2 linked regions of the Homo sapiens genome follow. The protein of the gene in region 1 interacts with the protein of each later gene in a biochemical or structural test. Each region holds a gene or a part of one and is shown in the gene's direction. Other genes may lie near its edges. The genes, in order: IREB2 and OTUD3.

Region 1 (7,277 bases):
TCTTGATTTTAGCAAATTTTCATGTTTCGTACATTTAAATGTGCTTGTTTTAAAATCTTTATTTCTTGGGGTTGAGGGTGTATTATACTATTAAAATAAATTGCATTAAAATAAATACGAATATACTTACTCTGCTTTAGAAAGTAATGCTTCAATTGGAATCTGTCGTAAGGAATTAATTCTAATTCCTTGTTCTTTCTCTTTCTCATTTCTTAGGTGATCCAGATTAATCTGAATTCAATAGTTCCATCTGTTAGTGGTCCAAAAAGACCTCAGGATAGAGTTGCTGTGACAGATATGAAAAGCGATTTCCAGGCTTGCTTAAATGAAAAGGTAGGTTACTTTATTCTTATCCGTGTTTTTCAACCCGCTTTGTGCTAAGTAGTAAAGAACCAACAAGGTGACCCATAAACTCAATTCACTGCTATGTTTTATATATTATGGCACACACCAGCAGCCCCCTTATTTTCCTTCTGTCTAATGTGCAAGTCAGTCATTAGGTAAGCTTGTTCCCAGTTCCATTGTGAGGATCAGAGATTGATTGTGTCTATTTAAATTAAAATTATATACAATTTAAAATTGAGTTTCTTAGTCACAGTAGTCTCATTTTTAAATGCTGAATACATATGGGTCTTGTATTGATGAACAGCATAGATAATTGAATAGTTACATCATCACAGAAACTTTTTTTTTTTTTTTTGAGACAGAGTCTCACTTTGTTGCCCAAGCTGGAGTGCAGTGGCACAATCTCGGCTCACTGCAACCTCCCCCCTCCCGGGCTCAAGCGATTCTCCTGCCTCAGCCCCCAAAGTAGTTGGAATTACAGGAGTCTACCATCATTCCTGGGTAATTTTTGTATTTTTAGTAGAGACAGGGTTTCACCATGTTGGCCAGACTGGTCTTCAACTCCTGACCTCAAGTGATCTGCCCACCTCAGCCTCCCAACAGTGCTGGGATTATAGCCATGAGCCACCGCACCTGGCCTACAGTCATAAAATTTGGTAAATGTGACCGAGTAGCAAGTGGTCTCTGGCTTTTGAGGGTTTGTATTTTCTGTCTGAGAATCACAGTTTTAGTCTTGTCACTTTCTCTATTCTGAGATCTCTAGTACTTGGCTTTCCTTTCAGAGCCTTTCTTTTTATGATTTCTTGACTTTTTGTTCAGAAAGTGTTAAACTTGTACAAAAACAAAATAGTCCACTGAATTGCCATGTACCTGTCAATTAGCTTCAATAATTAGCAACTCATAGCCAATCTTGTTTCAGCTATGCTACACTCACACACATAGGATCCCTTTGGAGGAAATCTTCGGGGTCATTTTAACAGAAAAAAATTTCTGCCATCTCTTGAGAATTACTATAAACAGGGATGATTAAGAACAACAAAGCCAAATGAGATCTGGATTCTGGGTGGTAGGCTGGACTCGCTTAGTAGATAAAAGTTTTGCTTGTGAACATCACCAGACTCCTGTCGTGCCCATGCAGATTTATGCTTCAGCTGAATTACAACTACTGAATGTTATGGGCCTTTAGCATCACTCACAAAAAGGATTTTTAATGTTAAATCATCAAATGTCCGGTATCTGCTATGTTTTCTGCCAGTCTTTTATTCTGTACATACCCAGAATATTTAGTTTATATTTTTGTGGAAATTTGTATAGGTTGGATTTAAAGGCTTCCAAATTGCAGCTGAAAAACAAAAGGATATTGTCTCCATTCATTATGAAGGAAGTGAATATAAGCTGTCTCATGGATCAGTGGTCATTGCTGCAGTTATCAGTTGTACCAATAATTGCAATCCATCTGTCATGCTTGCTGCAGGTGGGTTGTGGTTTATGGCCATACTTTTTCTTTTTCCTTAATTATTGTTGGCTTTTCTGTTATTGTAACTTTGTTTCTTAGATGATGCATGAGTGTCTACATTTGATATTGAGAGACTTTCTAGTATTTTAGTTAGGTCTTAAGGAGCCTGAGTTTGATTTATGTTGTTTTTATTACACCGAAGGTAAATTTACTGTTTACTATAACTTACCTGTCAATTAATTTTAGGTTGTATCTGCTTCTCTTGTTAATTTAGAACTATAGTTAATTAGCAGGTATTTCTTGATTATCTAGAAGTTAACCATAACAGTGTGGTAGATTTCATTAAAAGTTATAAAAGTAGTAAAAGATCATTGTCTTGGCAAGGATTGTAAATGAAATTAATTTGTATGCCCATTGGAACAATTCCTTAGTTGTATAAAACCATGTATAATGTGTTACATTGCTCTTATTGTAATTATGACTTTAAAATGGTTTGCTTTAGAAAAAAGAAGAAAGAGAAAAAATGGTTTTGTTAACATGTACTTATATATGTGCACCTTTTGTTTACTCTGTGTGAATGATGTCAGCCTGTATCTTAATAATTTTCAACATAAAGGCTGTAATTTTAAATTTGTTGTAAATGAAGCAAATCAGTAGAATAAAGTGGACAAAATAATGACAGTAAGTTTATGAATTCATACTTTAATCTGTTAAATAAATTACTTCTCACTTTTTACTTTAATATGGGTGAGAGAGGGAAAGAAACATTGCCATAATAAATCATTGTTTGTTGGCTGTGCAGGTCTTTTGGCTAAAAAGGCTGTTGAAGCTGGTCTGCGTGTTAAACCTTATATAAGAACAAGTTTATCTCCAGGCAGTGGGATGGTTACACATTACCTCAGTTCAAGTGGAGTATTACCATATCTAAGTAAGCTTGGGTAAGTAACAGCTATCGCACTTCATATTGATATTGGTGTTCAGTAGGTACTGAAGCTGCTTGTTTGTGCCTTTCATATACAAAGAGAAGATAGAAAAAATATGCTTTAGTTTTACTTGCTACCTTGCCATTACCATACAATTTTTGATGCCTTATCACTCAGGAAACACTTATTGGGCATATCAAATGAGCAAAGCACCAGGTTGGATACACAGAAGTAGGAGATGTGGTCTTAGCTTCAAGATACTTAGTTGGGAAGACAAGACAAACAAGTACAACCAAATAACAGTTACAGTGTAAGAAACGATACCAAGTATGCACAATTTCTGTGAGTTGTGTAGGTCAGTTCAAAAAAGAAAGAAATCTTATAGTTTGCATTTATTAACTGAAAATTGTCTTAATTTTAGTTTTATGAGGTTATTGGGTCTATAATACATAAGTTTAAATTGTCCCTGAACTTTGGAGAAAGTAACTTATGTTTTTTGGGCTGGGCGCGGTGGCTCACGCCTGTAATCCCAGCACTTGGGGAGGCCGAGGCAGGCAAATCATGAGGCCAGGAGTTTGAGACCAGCCTGGCCAATATGGTGAAACCCCGTCTCCACAAAAAATACCAAAATTAGCCAGGCGTGGTGACGCACACCCATAGTCCCAGCTACTCAGGAGGCTGAGGCAGAAGAATTGCTTTAACCTGGGAAGCGGAGGTTGCAGTGAACCCAGATCGTGCCGCTGCACTCCAGCCTGGGCGACAGAGCGAGACTCCATCTCAAAAAGAAAAAAAAAAAAGTAACCTATGTTTTTTATGTAATCCAAAACAATTGATGCTAGTTGTGTGGGGATTTTTTGGTTTTGAGACAGTGTCTTGCTCTATTGCCCACACTGGAGTGCAGTGGTGCAATCACAGCTCATTGCAGCCTCGACCTCCTAGGCTCAATCAGTCTTCCTACCTCAGCCTCCTGAGTGGCTGGGACCGCAGGTGTGCACCACCACACCCAGCTAATTTTTATGTTTTTAGCAGAGACAGAGTTTCACTGTGTTGGCCAGGCTCGTCTCAAACTTGTTCCCTTAAGTGATCGGCTCGTCTTGGCCCCCGAAAGTGTTGGGATTACAGGCCTGAGCCACCACACCCAGCCTAGTTATATTTTCGGTGTGTATTTTGGAACATATGAGTCATCAATTCCATTGCAAAACTGATAAATTTTAGACTTTTTTGCTTTTAGAATAGCATCTGAAAGTAATTTAGAGGACTGTGCCTGTAATCTTTTGGTTATATTATCTTGGATTTATTGTCAGAGACTCTTCTTGGGTTTAACTGGTTGATAATTGAGAGATTACTCCTATCAGAGTGCCCAATTACAATCAATGCCTCTTTTGGGACCTTTGGTCAGGTTATTATAGCCAGGTCCTCTTTACATTTTAAACTCTTGGATGGAAGTACAGTATCAATTATTTTAAAAGGTCATGTTATATTCCTAGCAAGTAGTATTTGGGGGAATTCTCTTGTACAGTGATAAGTGCTATTAAGGCTCTTCAAAGGTTTGCATTCACCTTTGAGACCAGCCTGAGCATTTTTATTTTTTATTTTACAAAAAATAAAAAAATTAGCTGGGCCTGGTGGCGAGCGCCTGTGGCCCCAGCTACTTAGGAGGCCAAGGAGCAGGATTGCTTGAGCCCAGGAGGTTAAGGCTGCAGTGAGCTGGTTCAAATAGCATGCCTGAGAGTTAGACTTGATTGCTCAGAATCTTCTGAGGTGAATATATTGATGAAGGTTAATCCATGTGTCATGAATAGTCTTTTAAGTAATCTTATTACAGTGATAGAAATACAAGATAAGACTTGTCCTTTCTCTATAAATGTTGTGATGTGCTATTCAGTCACTTTTTTTTTGAAATGCAGATTTGAAATCGTTGGCTATGGATGTTCAATTTGTGTGGGAAATACAGCACCCTTATCAGACGCAGTTTTAAATGCAGTAAAACAGGTAAAATGTGTGGATTGGCAAGACATCTAAATGATTTTCTTAACTATGTTTTGTTACTAAATTATAGAAAATATATATTGATGTGTTTATATTTCTGTAAACTCTGCACCTCTTGGCAATAGTAACCTGTGAATCTTTAAATGATTCAATGAATCATTTGTAGATCCTTGAAATAATTCCTTCATAATACAAGGAATTGATTTAGTTTATTTGCAAGATGCATAGTTCTATATTTAAAAATTAGTAATATGTTTTTTGGTTAATCTCGCCCTCAGACTTTAAGATTGCTTATATATGATTATCCAGATTTGTACCATCTCTAGAATTGAATTTATTTGTTTGTGTGTTTGTGTTTTTTTCAGGGTGATTTGGTTACCTGTGGAATTTTATCTGGAAACAAAAATTTTGAAGGTCGTCTTTGTGATTGTGTTCGTGCCAATTATCTTGCCTCTCCACCCTTAGTGGTAGCTTATGCCATAGCAGGCACAGTGAATATAGATTTCCAGACAGAACCTTTAGGTATCTTTTCCTTTATGTATATGTATACCTACACATACTTTTCCCAATGGAAGTCGTTATATTTTTGAAATGTTTCTTAGACCATCTATTCTTTGAATTATTTCAGGAAGACGTATGATAATGTATAGTTATTAATTTCTGTGTTTATGTGAAGAAAATAAAATGTACAGGTAATTAGTTCTTCCAGCCGCTTAAGCCTGAAGCACCCTGTTGAATCATTTACTTGATTTCCATGATATGTCTTTGAAAAGGTATGAACATTTTCAGAGTTATTTTTTTACTGAGTATCATGTTCAAAAATTTTAACCAGGTACTGACCCCACCGGCAAGAACATTTACCTGCATGATATTTGGCCTAGTCGAGAAGAAGTTCATCGAGTAGAGGAAGAACATGTTATACTATCCATGTTTAAAGCATTAAAAGATAAAATAGAAGTAAGAGTCTTATGTGTTTCTTAAATAGTTTAATCAATTTGCAGTGTTCTTTTATTTCATATATCTTCTGAATAGAATAAAAATTAAAATTACATTATTTTGAATACAGTTTTTAATGTGTAATAGTAAGTTTGTATCTGGAATCTGTAGTTAAAAAGAAAATGGCGGCTGGGCACAGTGGCTCACGCCTGTAATCCCGACACTTTGGGAGGCTGAAGCAGGTTGATCACGTGAGGTCCGGAGCTCAAGACCAGCCTGACCAACATGGAGAAACCGCATCTCTACTAAAAATACAAAACAATTAGCCAGGCTTGGTGGCGCATGCCTGTAATCCCAGCTACTCAGGAGGCTGAGGCAGGAGAATCACTTGAACCTGGGAGGCGGAGGTTGCGGTGATCCGAGATCGCGCCACTGCACTCCAGCCTGGGCAACAAGAGTGCAACTCTGTCTCAAAAAAAAAAAAAAAAGAAAGAAAATGTCTTAGAGGATCAGAATTCATTAGTGTTGATTGGATGATCTGTGCAGCAAACCACCATGGCACACATTTACCTATGTAACAAACCTGCACATCCCGCATATGTACCCCAGAAGTTAAAATAACAGTTGAGGGGGGAAAAGAAAGAATTGATTAGGTGTTCAGAATACATCATTGAACAAAACACAAAATTCTCCTGGGGAGAGGCAAATAAGCTGTAAAGAGAATAATTAGCTAAATTATGCAATATTTATTATTTTTTATTATTTATTTTTTGGTGTTTTTTGGGAGATGGCACCCCACTCTGTCACCCAGGCTGGAGTGCAGTGGCCTGAAGCAGCTCACTGCAGCCTTAACCTCCTGGACTCAAGCAATCCTGCTCCTCAGCCTCCTGAGTAGCTGGGGCCACAGGCGCTCACCATCAGGCCCAGCTAATTTTTTATTTTTTGTAAAATAAAAAATAAAAAATGCTCAGGCTGGTCTCAAACTCCTGGACTCAAGTGATCCGCCCACCTCAGCCTCCCAAAGTGTTGGGTTTACAGGCGTGAGCCACTGTGCCTGGCCTAAGAAATGGTGAGATTTTTGGCTGTAGTTTGAAGGCGTTGATGTGGAACAAATACATTGAAAAAGCAGAGGTTTTTCTCCATTATAACATTCTTAGACATTAACAGCATACCTCATACATGCTTAATCTCTCTGTAGCAACATATAGAAATCTTTCTAAATTCTTTAACTTTTTTGGACTCTGTGAAGTCTTTATGTTCTGTTTATATTGAAACTTGCCCCTTGGAGTGTTCCTGAACATCTGGTATGCTAGAATTTGAGGAGCAAATTTTTAATCATTCTGTCCAAAAACATCATGATTTTTTAGAACACACTGTTTTGGCTGGGCATGGTGGCTAATGCCTATAATCCCAACCCTCAGGGAGGCCAAGGCCCACGTATCGCTTGAGCTCAGGAGTTTAAGACCAGCCTGGGCAAAAATAAAAATTTAAAATTTTTTAAAAAAAAGAAAAGAATACACTCTTAATTTTCTTTCCAAATGGATAAGGCCTATTTTTGTTGTTGTTGTTGTGACCTAAGTACTATTTTATTCCCTTGATCATTTTCATGCGCCTCTTTTTCTGAGTCC
Region 2 (7,277 bases), on another chromosome or scaffold:
AGGTTCTCAGTTTTAATGAAATGTCTTTCTTTGGAAGATGCAGAAGAGAATCTTGAGCCCAGTGGTCGAGTGCTGAAGCAGTGTGGCCCTTTGTGGGAGGAGGGTGGCAGTGGTGCCAGAATCTTTGGAAATCAGGGCTTAAATGAAGGCAGGACCGAAAACAATAAGGCACAGGCCAGCCCTAGTGAAGAAAACAAAGCAAATAAAAACCAGCTCGCAAAGGTATGTAAGATGGGGTTGAATGGGCAGGTGGTGGGCAGGTGTAATTCTGTGGCAGTGGTGGTAGCTTGAGATTAATTTTATTTGTATTTTCCTTCTGATTTATAAAAGTAGTGTGGAAAATCTGGGGAATGCATAAAGCTACATCAAGAAGCAGAATGACCTCACTTATCCTGTTTGGTGTATGCCGTGACAGTTGGAAGGAAATACACCCTGAAATTGTCCTCAGTGTACAAATGAAAAGCCTCCTTTTCCCACCTAACATTACTGTACATGTGGGCTCTTCCCATGTTTATCCATGTTTTTTATAAATGCCATGATCTGCAATGAACACCTTTGTGTATAAATCTTTGGTTTTTGCATTATTTTCTTGAATAAAGTCCCAGAAGAGGAATGAACAGGTTAAAGGTCATGGATACATGAATCTTTTAAAGGCTTTTGGTAAATTGTCACGTGCTTCCCAGAAAGGTACATCTCCCTCCCTGCCCTTCACTCCCACAAGTAGTATGTGACATCTTCCATTTTACTGAATTTGGAATCATTTTAAAGATTTTCACCAAGAAGTTCTGAGCTCAAAATGCCACAGTGTAAAAAGCCACAGCAGAGGCAGAGATGCAATAAGCTTCTGAGGATTTTGTCAGAATTACCTGGGGCATTAAATTATGTGGGGAAAAATGTTCTCTGACACGTTTGTTTGTTACCAACTCTTGCTGGATGAGGGCTGGTTTCTTTAAGAGAAGAATGGAATTGATTTTGTTTGCTAGTTCAGCAAGGAAATATAAATTTAAATGCAAATTTGAGCAGCAGTGGACAGTAAATCATCTTTGGCGTCTTAGATTGGTTTTCCCTGTTCCTGCTGAAAAGCAATCTGTGCCCTTTGCCACCATCTCCCTTCTAGCAGGTGGCAGCTTGAGTCCCCCGTGCTTCCTACTCACCACCATGGCCTTCTCTCTCAGGTCACAAACAAACAGAGGCGAGAACAGCAGTGGATGGAGAAGAAGAAGCGGCAGGAGGAGAGGCACCGCCACAAAGCCCTGGAGAGCAGAGGTAGCCACAGGGACAATAACAGAAGCGAAGCAGAGGCGAACACGCAGGTCACCTTGGTGAAGACCTTCGCCGCTCTCAACATCTGACTCTTTGGCCTCTTGGGAGTTGTAAGAAGCGGCTGGAAAAGGATTGCTGTGTGCTAGACTTTCCAGTGAGGCCGTCCTTTTATAAAACGCAACACAACCAACGAAGCCCACACATGAGCTCACACACTGAGTTAGTTTCGTTCAAGCTGCCTCTTTTTTTGTTCGAAGTTTTATTAGTGATATGTTGGTGTTTTATGAAAATGCAGTGAGGCCATTCATATTCTGTAATACAAAATTAAAATACTGAGTTTTAGGGGCAGATAGTTAGGTCAGGAAAAACCTTTTAAGTGGTGGCTTTATTTGCCCTGAAAATCAGACTTCAGTGACCCTAGGATCTTTCCTTAACATTTGGGGTGAGTTTTGCTGTAATTGTTCATGAGTAGTTTAGAATAATTGTTAGAAATTCAGAATGACAAGTTTCCTTAGTTTCTCTTTCATTCTCAAACAGATATATAGGGTAGCTTATAAATGATCTCCAACTCAGGAATATGCTTTGATTTACTTCTAATCCAAGTTACTCAGAAAATAATTCAGGAATTGTTTTCCCAAAGTTACGTGAGGGTTGTGGCCTGCAGTCAGGATGGAAATTAACCGCATTTCTCTCCTTCCTGATTCTGATGTTATTTCAGATGGGATGCAGGTGCTGTTAGTTCATTTGCACTCAAGCCATATGATAAATGCAGCTGACTGTTAATTAGGCCTGGCCTTGTTGGGAAGTTGATAGTGGTGTTGGGTTTTTGGTATTTGTTTCCTGACAGTGGGGAGATGGCATGTTACTGCTTGTGATACAGTTCTGGAATTCTGATAGTGTGTAGAGCAGGGTCTATAGTTGTAACAGGAGACGAACTCCTGGGGTTTTGCCTAAGAGGAGTCTAAAGAATTATGTTTTTATAGGAGAAGCCTGGAAGAATAAGGTTTTTCATGTTCGCATTTTAAATAACGATTTTCTTCCCTTCTGTTGTAGACTTAGATGCCTTCAGAGAGATACGTGGTAACTTGACCTTATAGGTCGCTAAACTTAGTATTGTGGAAATTAAATCTTATAAAATGCTACATTTATTTCTTTTTATTTAAGCCCTGTTTGGCATTTCAAAGTTGGGAAAACTCCAGCATCTGCTGGAAGTTGTTGGACCAGCAGGGTTGGTTGACTTAGGTTGGACCAGCAGAGAAGAGAACATACTTTGGTTGAGGCCTTCGAATCACTCTTCAGTTCTGAAATAGACAGACTTGAGCAGTGGAGAGACGTCTTTCCTAAAACTGAGTTAGGTGGATGTGAACTTAAGAACTATAACGTATGAGGCAGCCCATCTTGGATCATCTTTGTCTTTTGGGACCTAATACTTGGGCAAATAATTGATGCTGAGTTGAAAGGTAAATTATTAGTTATCTTCCCCACCCCTCGCATTTCAGAATTATAAAAATTCGGAGGCAAATTGAAAACTAAAATGTTTGGTAGGCCCTGGAGTCGCCAGATTGTCTTTATCACCAGGCCTTTGGCTTTCTTCAGTTTCACTGGTATCTTTTGGTTTTGTTTTTGACTTTGGTGGCTTTTTGTAGTTGGAGCATCAGTAGTCTCTTGGAATTGCTCCTAGGACATTGTGGTTTAGGTTTCTTCCTGGGTACAGTACATTGTAAAATTTAGCAGATTAAAAAAAGTACACAGCATTTTTTTTCTGTGCACGTCGCAGAGTCCTGAGCTTGAGGCTGTGTTACTCTACTCATTCCAAACGAATGAAAGATCTCTGTTGCCTTACTCTAAGGAAGTGGGATCGAGTGCGTTAGGATCTATGGTTGTCTTGGTTTTCAACTCTGGGCAGATTCCTGACTGGCTGAGTGTTTCTGAATGAAGATGTTTTCCTGTCTGTTTTGTACTGCTTGAGTGCAGAGGCCAGATCCTCTCAGAAAGATAAGATTGTATGCCAGAAATTCAGATTAGCAGTCAGCTTAAGAGAGACTTATTGTCAGAAGTAGTAGAATTGCTTTATTTACTTGGTTAATGAAGGTGGCCTTGGGCCCTATTGGGTTTTAGAAGTTTTAGAAGCTGCTAAAAAGTTATTAAAGAATATTGGGAACATTTATTTTTTAAATTACCTAATTCTGGTAATAGGCTTCAGCATTTCTGGAGTATAATAATGGTGGTTTAAAAAACTAATCAAACGGCTTTAGTAATTTTACTACTGGTTTCACAGCTTTTCAGTTACAGTTGGTCTGTTTAGTGTGTTAATTATTAGGAATCGGGTACATGCATCCAACTTCAGTGATACCTTCTAGCTAATGGTTTCAATTTAGACTTCACTGCCTCAGTCTCACTGGGTACATGAGAAGGTTGGAATCAACATGCTTAGTTGCCTCAGTGGGCACTTGAAAATTCCTTCACTGGCAGCCCGAGTGGAGGCCCAGTATGTCTAGTCCTGGGATGACTGTTGTCAGCAGCTGTTACTCTAGTACAGGTGCTCCTGTGAACTCTTTATTAGGAACTGAATGTGTCTTAACCTCTGTGTTACATCTTGGCTGGCAGAGATTTATGTTACATGAGATTGTCTTGGTAGCTTGTAGTGTGGTCAGGAGAAAGGGGATGGAGCAGTGGTGCATAGCTGCTTACTGCTCTTATAAACGGTATATAAAGGTTTTACGGATTTTGAAAATATTTTTTTTTAGAGGTCAAAATAAATACCATTTTAGTGGCAACAGCTTTGAACTAGAGAGGTAGATGTATTAAAGCAGCATAGAACCATAACTTCTAGATAATGTAGTTGCCACTAGGAGATATTAGAAAGTTAGAATGTATGTGTGTATTTAGTTTTTCAATAATAATGAACATACACTTTCAGGAGCAAAGTATGGTTGAGAAATTGTGGCAGAAAGAATTTTAAATGTTAGTCGAAGTTGTCTGTAGTTTCTTTATTAAGCTCTGAAAACACTTCCAATGCCAGTTTGATTCTGAGGGCTTGGGAAGTGGGATCTCCCTTGTGGAGCAGCTGGAGCTGGCTGGGAGGGAGCCTCTCCATGGGTAATTTATTATGCCTGCCCTGCTTCCCCCAGGGAGCTGCTTCAGTGTGAAATGATGTGATTGTCGGGGGTGGGGTGGGAGGAGGGCCACCTTCAGTCGGGGAGTTGCTCACATATTACACAGGTAGCATCAGGTGGACTTCAGCGCTGAACTGTACTAGTAGTGAGTCCCTGTAGTCAATGTGCAATTTCTCTAATTCTGAGAAACTCTGTAGACTCTGCCTGGGTTTTACTGGGTCAGCATAGAATGCTATCAGTTTACCTCTGTGAAATATTCAGTCAGTTGAAGGAAACTTGGATTCCTAGTCAGAGGTGACTAAAAGTTACCCTGACCAAAAGGATCTCTGCGGGGGGAAGAGAATGGAGCTTCCTGATTTTAATGTGTTGCGTCAGTGGCCCTCTTCGACTCCCGTTTTGGGTAGATGCGTAGCTCTTCACTTTCTTACCTCAAGGCTCTGTCTAGCCATGTTAAATCTTTAGACTCAGTCTGATGCCGTTTTTCTGTTTTGCCATTCTCATTATTCACAGCTTTCAGAACAAGTGTTGCTAAAACTCCGGGGCCTTTGACAGTTGTTCTGAGGTGATTTAATAATGGACTTTTTATAAGTTATGTTTTCCTGGCTCTAAAGTAAATTTTTTTTTTTTTTTTTTTGAGACAGAGTCTTGCTTTGTTGCCCAGGCTGGAGTGTGGTGGGGCAATCTCGGCTCACTGCAACCTCCACCTCCCGGGTTCAAGCGATTCTCCTGCCTCAGCCTCCTGAGTAGCTGGGATTACAGGTGTGTGCCACCATGCTTGGCTAATTTTTGTATTTTTAGTAGAGACGGGGTTTCACCATGTTAGCCAGGCTGGTCTCAAACTCCTGACCTTGTGATCTGCCCGCCTCAGCCTCCCAAAGTGCTAGGATTACGGGTGTGAGCAACCCTGCCCGGCCAGTAAATTGTATTTTTTTAATGACATCATTGATTTGAAGATCTAGATGGCATAAATTACGACGTCTGCCATCGCATATTAGAAAGGGGACAGTCATATTTGTAACGTGGAGAGAACACGGAGCACCAGTCACCACGTGCACTTAGGATGCAGAGCTTACCGCACACCGCTGATGGGGACCTCCGGAAAGAGCGGTGCCTTGTGGTTGGCCTGGAAGTTCTCTCCCAAGGTGAAATTCCTTTAAAACCTCAGGCTCTGACCTATGTCTTTGAAGCAGCTGCTTTGTAGAGTCCCTCTCTTTACTGTCCTCGTTAGGACTGTTTTGTGGTTCCATGAAAATGTTTAGCATCCTTGCAGAATTACTTGAGAAGGGGCTGGTACCAGTGTAAAGAATCTATTTCTGTAAAACTACGAACTTTTGCATAGGGAATTTATTCTAAGCAGGTCATAGCCGTGATCCAGAGCTGCTGCTGCTCACTGCCAGTCCTTGCGGCTGGCGGCGATTGCCGGACAGACTCTCTGTGGCCTGGCTCTCATCCTTGGCGTGTCAGCCTGCGGCAGGCTGCCAGCCATCCATGACAATCATGTGAGCTCAGCCACAGACCTCAGCTGGCGGTTTGATCCCTGGCAGGTCCCTCGAGCAGTACTGGTAAGAGGCTTCACACATTTTCCCACTCTTACAGTTCATTTTTCATAGTAGGAAGGGCCCTTGGCCTCCCCAGTGCCTCTTCCAGAGCCTCCACCAGCACTAAGCTCAGAGGAAAGAAGAAAAGGGCCAGGAGTCAGACGTCACACCCGGGGGCTCCCCTTTCCCATGTAGAAGTGTTGGCATGCGTCAGTCTCCTTTACAGAGGGGTGGATGTATCCGTGGAGGAGGGGCCTTCTCTCTTTCTAATTGCACTATACTTGTTCTAGCTTCAGTCTGGAGATACTTAAGACCTCCATGGGGTCGTGATCCATAGACTTAGCAAGTCTTGCCTTATCTATGGAGCTCGATGGTGAGAATTGTGACCATTGTCTGATGTCCATAGTTCCTTCCCCCTAGATTGTTTCTTTCCACGGATTGTGTTCATCTGAACCATTTTATTTTTTATTTACCAAAGTACTGTACTTGGCTATTTGCAGTGTTTTCAAAACCAAATGTTTCTTTTTTTGTGTTTTTAATCTTCGATACTTGGTGCAATAGAAGCTGCAAAGATGTGCCACTTTATCTATGAAATGGAGTTTTGTATACCAATAAATTCTAGTTTAAAAACAAAGTTTTAAGTTGTTTTTATCAGTATCTGACCACCGTTTGAGTGAATGCAAGGAGGCTGAGTGTGCTGGGAAATGTCCTTTTTGGAGACCTTTGTGTGGAAGCTTTGCGTGTTTGCGTGTGCTGGATTGAGTATTCTAGGTGTATAATAGTACTTTGGGATCTGACTAAGCTTAGAACAGCTGATTTTTGCTTTAGTGCAGCTAAATGCAGCCACCAAACACAATGGCAGGGTCATTCTTAAGGACTACACACTTAAGATTTCTGCCTGATATCTGAGAGCATCTCTTGATAAGTTTGAAACTGTTTAAATATGTAGCAGTTGTCTGTCAGCGGCCACTTTGGGCTCCTCTAGAACTCTCAAGATTGTTTGACCCCATTCAAGGAGGAGGCTCCCTGCCAAGGCACAGACAGTACCATCTGGGGGCACAACTCACCTAGAAGGGTCCACAGGAAACCAGAGCGAAGGGAGTCCTTCATTGCGTCCAGCAGGGGCCCCATCCACACAAGGGCTCTGGCTCGGCAGACCTCACCATGTCATGATTTTGACCTTGAGACTCCCATTCTCCCATTCTTCATTTTGTATTCAACAAGCAGCCTTCTGAATTGGCTCCCTGTTGCCTTGACACAAAAAAGGACTAGATGGTTTTCTGGATGAAAGTCAAGAATATTCTAGCTTCTGCAAGCAGATTCTCCCACAATCTCTCAAGTGATCTTCTCTGTGTGATTC

What was found.
Region 2: the proteins of IREB2 (region 1) and OTUD3 form a complex in vitro, tested with the Homo sapiens proteins (one study listed by BioGRID).

Annotation. Positions count from the first base shown.
Region 1 is NC_000015.10:78,483,102-78,490,378, forward strand, and holds part of IREB2 (iron-responsive element-binding protein 2), read left to right. Parts: intron 1-216; coding exon 217-333; intron 334-1,659; coding exon 1,660-1,819; intron 1,820-2,603; coding exon 2,604-2,739; intron 2,740-4,631; coding exon 4,632-4,716; intron 4,717-5,078; coding exon 5,079-5,235; intron 5,236-5,545; coding exon 5,546-5,670; intron 5,671-7,277. UniProt on the Homo sapiens protein: RNA-binding protein that binds to iron-responsive elements (IRES), which are stem-loop structures found in the 5'-UTR of ferritin, and delta aminolevulinic acid synthase mRNAs, and in the 3'-UTR of transferrin receptor mRNA.
Region 2 is NC_000001.11:19,906,395-19,913,671, forward strand, and holds the end of OTUD3 (OTU domain-containing protein 3), read left to right. Parts: intron 1-37; coding exon 38-222; intron 223-1,175; coding exon 1,176-1,352; 3' UTR 1,353-6,551; downstream 6,552-7,277.